Regions from separate parts of the Homo sapiens genome. Here region 2 is linked to region 1. The links come from fine-mapping of genetic effects on gene expression. A gene starts in region 1. The other region holds a variant in brackets. All regions are shown on one strand. Distances are between the middles of the regions.

Region 1 (4,379 bases):
CTACAAACACCAAGTTAGCAGGGAAAGTGACCCCTGCCAGTCCCTTCCAATATATTCTTTTTTTTCTTTTAAAGAAAATACCTATAAGCACAATATATTCCATTTAGATGATGGGGGAGAAATGGTTTATCACCATTCTGAGATGGCAGAATTAAAGCTTGGATTGACTCTTCTACGCTGGGTGGCTTTTCCAACTCATTAATTATTTCAAATATAGATATTATAGATTCCTTTGGTTTACAAAAGGCTACCTTAACCCTCCAGAGAAGATCTATGGACACAAGTAGCTTGCTGCAGGAAAGCATTTTACAAGCCTACTAGAAAGCCAGTCTTTTTCTCTGCTCAAACTAGATTTCGTTCTGGTAACATCTCTCCATTCTTGCCTTTTTCCCCCATTTCAAGTTGCCTCAGGTTTCTGATTGTTCCAGAACACACCTTCTAGCCATTTTTCCTTAACCTCCATTTCCCCTTCCTTTAAACCTCGTCCCTCCTTTCTTTTCACCACATTTATTTCCCAAAGGGCTCCGAACACTGCAGTCTTTACGTCTCACTTAGAGGGTGAGCAACCACTTCATGAAAATGTGTGGAGAGGCCTCAGCCTGCATAATCCCAGCACCACTCAGTTACTGGGGAGGAGGGGCTTAAGTGTGACCTGCTGTGGACAGAGGCAGCTTTATCCCACAGAAAATTAAGGTTCAGGGTCCCTTCCAAGGAAATGCATTCGTCAGTCCCATTTTTGTAAAATATGCAAAACTATATTTTAGATTTTCTTTTAAAGGACCCCCTGAATTACATAAAGTTCAGCCTCCAGACCTAGACCGTCCCCCGGTCTGGAAGAAAACCTGCCTCACCACAACAGCATGCTAATAGTGCTCAAGTCAAGATCACCAACAAATCAACATACGGGCAACGGTGTTGCTGGTTTCCAAACACACCCAGTTATGTGTGTAACAAGGACACCAGAGGAAAGGCAACTCTTCAAGCACCTTTCTTACCTGAACAATCCTAAATATTGGCCCCAACTACATATTTCATCTGATATTAACATCAAAAGCCTTCAAATGAGCTTTCCAAATGACTTAAGATTTTAGGGAGCCTTTGTATTGGCAGTTTTTTTTCGGAACTCCCTCCAAAAGGCCAGCAAAGGATACATTTACTATAATCATGGGCAGTAATTCTCAGACTTAAGCCAGCTAAAAATCGCCTGTGAGAGCTGGTTACAATGCAGATGTCTGAGTCTCACCGCCCGAATTTCTGAATGTATAGGTCTAAGGCGGAGTTCAAGGGGATCCTCCCAGGTCTCAGGAGGTTGTACACTGAACATAGGTTGGTGGTCGCAGTTGTTCTACCACTGTGTGACCTTGACGCAGGGAGAGGAAATATTCATTTACAGAAAACGTAAAATAACGTGGAGAGAGAGTGAGATGGTAACCGGAACTCAGAAATGCAGGTGGTGTGTGACCCACGGTATTTTGCTAGGGTGTGGCTGGGCACGACTCATCCACCGGAGAAGCTGCAGAATCGATTTATGAGGGTCTCAGGAATGCAAAGACACACAGATTCGTCTCACCTAGAAGTCACGTTTCATTTTAATCTCCAAGCAGACAGCGCAGCAGCAAACCTGGGGCTGTGGAGTGGGGCCCCACACCCTCCGCCCACTCTCCCGCCCCCGTCCACGCCTAGACTGCAGGAAAGGGGTCTTCGCACACAAAGCCAGACCCCCAGGCGTGGGAAGATGGAACCAGAACAATTCGAACGAGCAGAGCAAAACAGATCGGAATTGCAGACTTCAGGTCGTGGCAGAGAAAACCAGCTGAGACAGGGCGCCACTTACTAGGTGATTCTTTATTCCAAGTTGGGGAACGGAGGAAGACGAGAGGGGGAGCCCCCGGGTCCGGTGAAACGCTCTAGGAGAAATGCGGCTCCTTCGCGTCCCCTAGGGCACCCTCTGCCCCCGGCCGGGTTCCGAACTAAGATGTGGCGACCCCGACCGGCCCGCCCCCCTTCCGGGGCTGCCTTCGCGATCCCGAACTGCACCCTCCCGGATCCCCCACCCTGGGCCCAGCCTCAGGAAGTGGCGGGGCGCCCAGCGGGAGCGGGAAGCGCGGGCTAAGGGCGGGCGGGCGGCCACGCCCAGCCGGGTCGCCGGGTCGCCCATGGCCGGGAGGGGAACGCGCCCGCGGCCATCCCCGTCCCTCCCCAACGCCAGGCCCCCCCCGGCCAGCCGCCCGGGCTCCCGGCGCGCTCACCGCCTTCATAGCGGAGGCCATGTCGTCGTAGCGCTCCGCCTGCTCGGCCAGCCGCGCCCGCTGCAGCAGCTGCTCCCGGTCCCCCATGTCGCTCGCGGCTCGGCCTCGCCTCGCGCCTCACACCGCTGGCTCGCTAGCCCTCCCGCCGGTCAGTCCGCTCCCCGGTCGCTGCGGAGGCCGCCGCCGCGCACGCGCACTGGCTCGCCGGCCGGCCGGAGGCTGCAGGCTGCAGGCTGCAGGCAGCGCCGCCGCTCGCGCCCTCTCGCTGGCTCGCCCCGCGCGCTGTGGCTCGCGCCGCGGACAACGCCGAGGGAGGAGACGCGGCCGCGCTGGGGGATGGGAGGACGGGACGACGCCTGCGCAGTGAGAGTGGCCAGGCCGGGCGGCGGGGAGCGGCGGGAGTGGGAGGGGGGAAGGGCGGGCCGGCCCTAACGGTCTATTTCAAGGTGACGTCACCTACTATAAATAGCCACCGCCGCCGCCGCCGCCCGGCCTGAAAGCCGCGCAGGCGCTCTGCGAGTGCTGCATTTTACCGCCGCAGAGATGGAGGTGGAGAAGGGAAAGCCGGGCAGGAGACTGCGGAGCCGGTGGAGGGGGCGCGGTGATGGCGGCTGCACAGGCAGTGCATTGTCATAGCCCCACCCTGAAACGCGCCACTCCATCCACGTTAGAGATCTGGCTTGAGAAGGGCCCCAAAAGCAAGCAAACATACTGGCGGAGAAGCCGGGAGACCGCGTGCCCCGAGGGGCGGGTCCGCCCAGCCCCGCCCCAGCCGTCCCGCCCGCCCCGAGCCCTGCCTGTCCATGCGTTCTGCTGGGCCACACCTTGTACTGGTCCGGGCAGGATCGAGTCCGACCCTCGGGGACAGCCCCGCTACACAGACACACACAATCGAACCCAACCTGAGACGTAGCCTTGGGCAGGCTGTGCCTTCCACCAGAGGAGGGGACTGGGTGGCCAGGGCGGGACAAGTAATATTCAGGACACATTAGGAGCCAGCCCAGTGCTAGTCCCGTACAAGCATCCTCCTCTTTAATCCTCACTACCCAGCCCACAGTGGGCACAGCTGGTCTCCCCATATTTAAAACGTGGAACCTGAGGAAAAGCGAGGTTAGTGACTTGCTCAGGGTTACGCAGCCTGTAAGTGGTGGGGCCAGGATCTGAGTCCAAACCCAGGCTGAACTTTCTCTTGTGGCAAAGAGCTGGGGTGGCCCAACTGGCTGGTCACTGAGCCCCTCCCAATCCTGGCTGGTATTGGATGCTGAGGGTCCCTTGTGCCAGGCCCTGGACTGGGCTGCCCGACAAGCTAGGAAAATGATGATTAAAACAAGGCCCCCACTTGATTTCAACACGCCAAGGGCAGTGCAGGAGAGGGGGCCTTGGGCTCGCTGAGAATTTTATTGAGCATCTACTGCATGCTCAGCCCACAGGGATAAGCTGGATCTTGAAGGAGAGTCAGGAAAAAGATTAAGGCCTGGGGTACAGCATTGGCAAAGGCTTGGCAGTGACCTGGGAGATGGTGAGAAGAGAGGCCTAAGAATGGGAAGTGAGGTTGGGTAAAACAAGATTACGGAGTCTTTTAAATGCCAGGCCAAAGATTTGAGGCTTCATCCTTAGGTAATTGGGAAGCCATATTTCAGGCCTGGAATCTTGCTCTAGAGAGTAAGACATGTTCGAAGGGAGAAGGGAGGGAACTGGAGACCAGGCCTTTTCTGGACCTGTTTTCCATCTGGAGAATTGGACTTAACTGTTTCAAGGACTTTAGAATAGATATCCACATGCTGAAATGTCAGAGCTGGCAGGACCCTTAGAATCACCCCTGTCTAACCCCTTATCCTGAATAACGGGAAACTGAGGTCTGAGGGAAAGGAGGGGCTGGCCCTAGTTTGCACAGCGAGTGAGCAGAGCTGGGGTCTCCATACCAGGTTTCCTGCCTCCCAGGCCTTCCTCTTCCTGCTATGATGCTGAAACGATCACACTTCTGGGGGCCCATGAAACAGGATTTGAATGTGGGTCTAGGAGGAGGCCACTACCCCAGGCTTCACCATGCTTTGAAGAGTCACTTTTGCTGTTGGAATCGAGGTTAACAAACCAGGCTAATCTTTCCCCTAGTGAATATATTTAAAGAGC
Region 2 (4,379 bases), 30 kb after region 1:
GGTGGGTGGATCACTTAAGCCCAAGAGTTTGAGACAGCCTGGACAACATAGTGAGACCCTGTCTCTACAAAAAATTAGTGGGGTGTGGTGGCATGTGCCTGTAGTCCCAGCTACTCGGGAAGCTGTGGTGAGAGGATCAACTGAGCCTGGGAGGCAGAGGTTGTAGTGCGCTGTGATCACGCCACTGCACTCCAGCCTGGGTGATAGAGCAAGACCCTGTCTGAAAATAAAATAAAATAGAAAACCAGAATGTTTGGCCTCCGTTACGGGAGCATTTACAGCACTGCCTTAAAATGGGGGAGCACCCTGCACCGCTCAGACACCTTTGCAAAGCTGACTGCCTCGGGTCCTCACCATGATCCCTCAAAGAAAGCTGGAGAAACGCCGTCATCACTGTACCCTCAAACTTGAGGTCGAGTGAGGTGAATGGACTTATTCAGGATCACAGGTAGTTGGCACTATTGTCAGACAAGAGTAACAGTGGCTTTTCCTCAGACTCAGTTCTCAAAATGCTGCCCCACCACCCCCCCCTTTTTTTTTTTTTTGAGACAGAGTCTCCCTCTGTCACCCAGGCTGGAGTGCAGTGGTGCGATCTTGGCTCACTGCAACCTCCGCCTCCCGGGTTCAAGTGATTCTCAGCCTCAGCCTCCTGAGGAGCCGGGATTACAGGCGTGCACCACCACACCTGGCTAATTTTTGTATTTTGAGTAGAGACGGGGTTTTGCCATGATGGCCAGGCTAGTCTCGAATTCCTGGCCTCAAGTGATCTGCCTGCTTTGGCCTCCTAAAGTGCTGGAATTACAGGCATGAGCCATTGCGCCCAGCTCAACAACCCTTATCTCCCAGGTTCTCACACCGACTTCTTGAGTTACGTAACGAAGTCTTGATGATTCCCATCTTGTCGCTAGACGGATGAGGGTCAGGGTGGTTTCAAAAGCCTATGCAGGGTCACCTGGTGAAGAAACAGCAGGTTGAACCTGGGCGCAGCGTTCTGATTCTGAGGAGAAAGGGAACATGAAAGAGATCATTTCCCTACTTGTCTTATCAGACACCGGCTACCACCGTGGAGCTTGGGTGTGTTCAGAGGCCATTGTTCTACCTACATCTGGGGCCAGGAAGAGCAAAGGCTGACAGGTGAGCAAGGCCTTGTGTGGCATGACACCAGGGGACAGGCTGGCTCAGGGCTTCCAGACAATGGGCCATTTTTTGGCTCCAGTGTGCACCCAGGGACTTGCCAGCACTCACCTCTAGTTGTTGAAAGGGCAGGCTGGGTGAGGCAGGTCGGGGAACTCTCTCTGCAGTTCTTCCTTTCAGTTTTTAGTCGTCTTCTCCTGACTGTTCTGTTGCCAAAACCCCCCAGCCCTCCAGCATCCCCTTCCCCACCCCATCCTCCTCACCTGCTAGAACTCTTATGTAGCTGTCAAGTCCCAGCCCAAATGCCCCTTTCTCCAGTCTTCCCCAGCTCCCCTACACAGACTGAAGCCCCCTCCTCTATTTCTTTTTTTCTTGAGACCAAGTCTCGCTCTGTCACCCAGGCTGGAGTGCGGAGGTACGATCTTGGCTCACTGCAAACTCCCCCTCCCGAGTTCAAGTGATTCTCCTGCCTCAGCCTCCCGAGTAGCTGGGATTACAGGCACCCACCACTATGCTTGGCTAATTTTTTTTTTTTTTTT[G/TTG]TATTTTTAGTAGATAGAGATGGGGTTTCACCATGTTGGCCAGGGTGGTCTCGAACTCCTGACCTCAAGTGATCCACCTGCCTCAGCCTCCAAAAGTGCTGGGATTACAGGCGTGAGCCACTGCACCTGGCCAATTTCTTTCTTTCTTTTTCTTTTTCTTTTTTTTTTTTTTTTTTTTTGAGATGGAGTATTGCTCCGTCACCCAGGCTGGAGTGCAGTGGCACAATCTCGGCCCACTGCAAGCTCCGCCTCCCGGGTTCATGCCATTCTCCTGCCTCAGCCTCCTGAGAAGCTGGGACTACAGGCACCCACCACCATGCCTAATTTATTTGTAGTTTTAGTAGAGACGGGGTTTTACAGTGTTAGCCAGGAAGATCTTATCTCCTGACCTCGTGATCCGCCCGCCTCGGGCTCCCAAAGTGCTGAGATTACAGGTGTGAGCCACTGCGCTCGGCCAGCGCCCGGCCAGTTTCTGTACTGCATTACAGATAGCCAATCTGAGACCTCTTCTAGAGGGCTATGGTGGCTGCTTTGCATGTCTGCTTCCCTCCACGAGGAGGGCAAGGCCCACGTTGGTTCAACCTTGCATAAATGTTGGCTGAATGAATGAATTCAATAAATTCTAAATAAGCACCAAATGTGTGATGGGTGCTTGCTGTGGAGGATACAAGGATGAGCAAGATGTGTTCTCTGCCTCCAAAGAGCTTACATTCGATGGGAGAGGCAAGGTACGTGAACAAGGAAAGTGGAAGGAAACACAGAAGCCATGTCCCAGCAAGTGAGCACTCAATATGGCCAGCATTCTAATCTGGTGCTGCCCGTAACTTGCTGGAAGCCTCTAAGCAGGCTTCTTAGCCACTCTGGCCTTGGAACCCAGCAAGAGTAATTCCTATAGATTGACGATGGGGCTGCCATTGGATTCAGATCACAGGAAGGGGCAAGTGACAGGTGCCTCTTCTTCCAAAGTCACAGGAGGGAGGGAGTCCCCCCGTCTAAGCCTCTTACCTGACCACAGTCTAGTTCATGGTGTCTGAAGCTGACACGATTGACATTGGAGGCTGGATAATTCTTTGCTGTAAGGTCTATCCTGAGCATTGTAGGTTTTTTAGAAGTACTCACTAGAGGCTGGGCACAGTGGCTCACACCTGTAATCCCAGCAGTTTGAGAGGCTGAGGTGGGAGGATCACTTGAGGCCAGGAGTTCAAGAACAGCCTGGCTAACATGGCAAAATTCTGTCTCCACAAAAAAAAAAAAACCAAAAATTAGCCAGGCATGGTGGCTCCAGGTACTCAGGAGGCTGAGGCACAAGAATCGCTTGAACCCGGGAGGTGCAGGTTGCAGTCAGCCAAGGTTGTGCCACTGTGCTCCAGCCTGGGTGACAGAGTGAGACCCTGTCTCAAAAAAAAAAAAAAAAAAAAAAAGCATAGAGCAGAGAGACAGCCAGGCATGGTGGCTCAGGCCTGTAATCCCAGTGCTTTGGGACGCTGAGGCAGGAGGATCTCTTTTTTTTTTTTTTTGAGACGGAGTCTTGCTCTGTTGCCCAGGCTGGAGTGCAGTGGTGTGATCTTGACTCACTGCAAGCTCTGCCTCCTGGGTTCACGCCATTCTCCTGCCTCTGCCTCCAGAGTAGCTGGGACTACAGGTGCCCACGAGCATGCCTGGCTAATTTTTTTTGTATTTTTAGTAGAGACGGCTTTTCATCGTGTTAGCCAGGATGGTCTCGATCGGCAGGAGGATCTCTTGAGGCCAGAATTTTGAGACTACTTGGGCAACATAGCAAGAATCCCGTCTCTATAATATTTTTTTTTTAGACGGAGTTTCGCTCTTTTCGCCCAGGCTGGAGTGCAATGGCATGATCTCGGCTCACTGCAACCTCCGCCTCCCTGGTTCAAGTGATTCTCCTGTCGCAGCCTCCCAAATAGCTGGGATTACAGGTGCCTGCCACCATGCCAGGCTAATTTTTGTATTTTTAGTAGAGACGGGGTTTCACCATGTTGGCCAGGATGGTCTCGATCTCTTGACCTCATGATCCACTCACCTCGGCCTCCCAAAGTGCTGGGATTACAGGCGTGAGCCACTGCGCCAGGCCTTTTTTTTTTTTTTTTTTTTTTTTTTTTAATTAGCTGGGCGTGGTGGTGCACGCCTGTAGTCCCAGCTACTCAGGGGGGCTGAGCTGAGAGGATTGCTTGAGACTGAGTTCAGGGTGGCAGTGAGCTGTGATAGTGCCACTGCACTCCAGCCTGAACAACAGAGGGAGACCCTGTATCTCTGAGAGAAAAAAAAAAAAGAGCACAGAGAAGAGGCAAGAAATTGCGTTCCAGTGGCAACTGTGGGACTGAAACAGACTGGAATTCCCCCCTCAGCACTCATCCATCCTGTTGGTTGAGAAAGGAAAAAGTCTATATATAATCTTATGGTCCCCAATGTTTCTCCCAGATGAGTTCAGATGAAAATTCTGGGGCTCAGGGAGAAAAGACTTTTCCAGAGATTGCATAGCAATTCCCCATCTCCCCTCATCCCCATGGGAAAAGAGATTTTCTTGTTGGAAGGACTATGTGCTGATTCACTGAGGAAACAGGAATCTTGCTGCAGCCAGAGAAGCAGATGGAGGTCAAATCTGAAGGCTGGTAGGACTCAGTACTCGGCACCAGCTTTTGCTACATGCAAATGCTACATCCCAGGCATTTCAGGCCAGGTTTAGGGCAA

Direction of the effects. Alleles are on the strand shown, and positions count from the first base shown. SD is a standard deviation of normalised expression in the study named.
With allele G in place of TTG in region 2, the expression in monocytes of the gene that starts at base 2,535 in region 1 is higher (moderate effect, 0.51 SD a copy in BLUEPRINT).

Evidence for each region. PIP is the estimated chance that this variant, and not a neighbour inherited with it, causes the effect.
Region 2: its variant is the best candidate, but not a certain one, in a credible set for the expression of YWHAH in monocytes (BLUEPRINT, PIP 0.69).

What each region holds. Positions count from the first base shown.
Region 1 is chr22:31,942,691-31,947,069 of GRCh38, reverse strand. It overlaps YWHAH (tyrosine 3-monooxygenase/tryptophan 5-monooxygenase activation protein eta), which reads right to left and starts at 2,535. Exons shown (of 2, transcript NM_003405.4): 1 at 2,250-2,535. The coding sequence starts at 2,336. It overlaps YWHAH-AS1 (YWHAH antisense RNA 1), which reads left to right and starts at 1,704. Exons shown (of 3, transcript NR_171018.1): 1 at 1,704-1,837. LOC124900477 (a long non-coding RNA gene) reads right to left here and starts at 2,236. Exons shown (of 3, transcript XR_007068065.1): 1 at 1,835-2,236; 2 at 1,392-1,570. RefSeq lists enhancers at 1,565-1,614, 2,358-3,215, 3,216-4,073 and silencers at 1,935-2,274, 2,345-2,564, 2,575-2,664, 2,945-3,094.
Region 2 is chr22:31,912,402-31,916,780 of GRCh38, reverse strand. No RefSeq gene overlaps it. Among named protein-coding and RNA genes, the nearest start is that of YWHAH, 30 kb to the left of the region's middle. RefSeq lists an enhancer at 4,113-4,379. The variant G/TTG (reference allele first, on the strand shown) is at 1,674.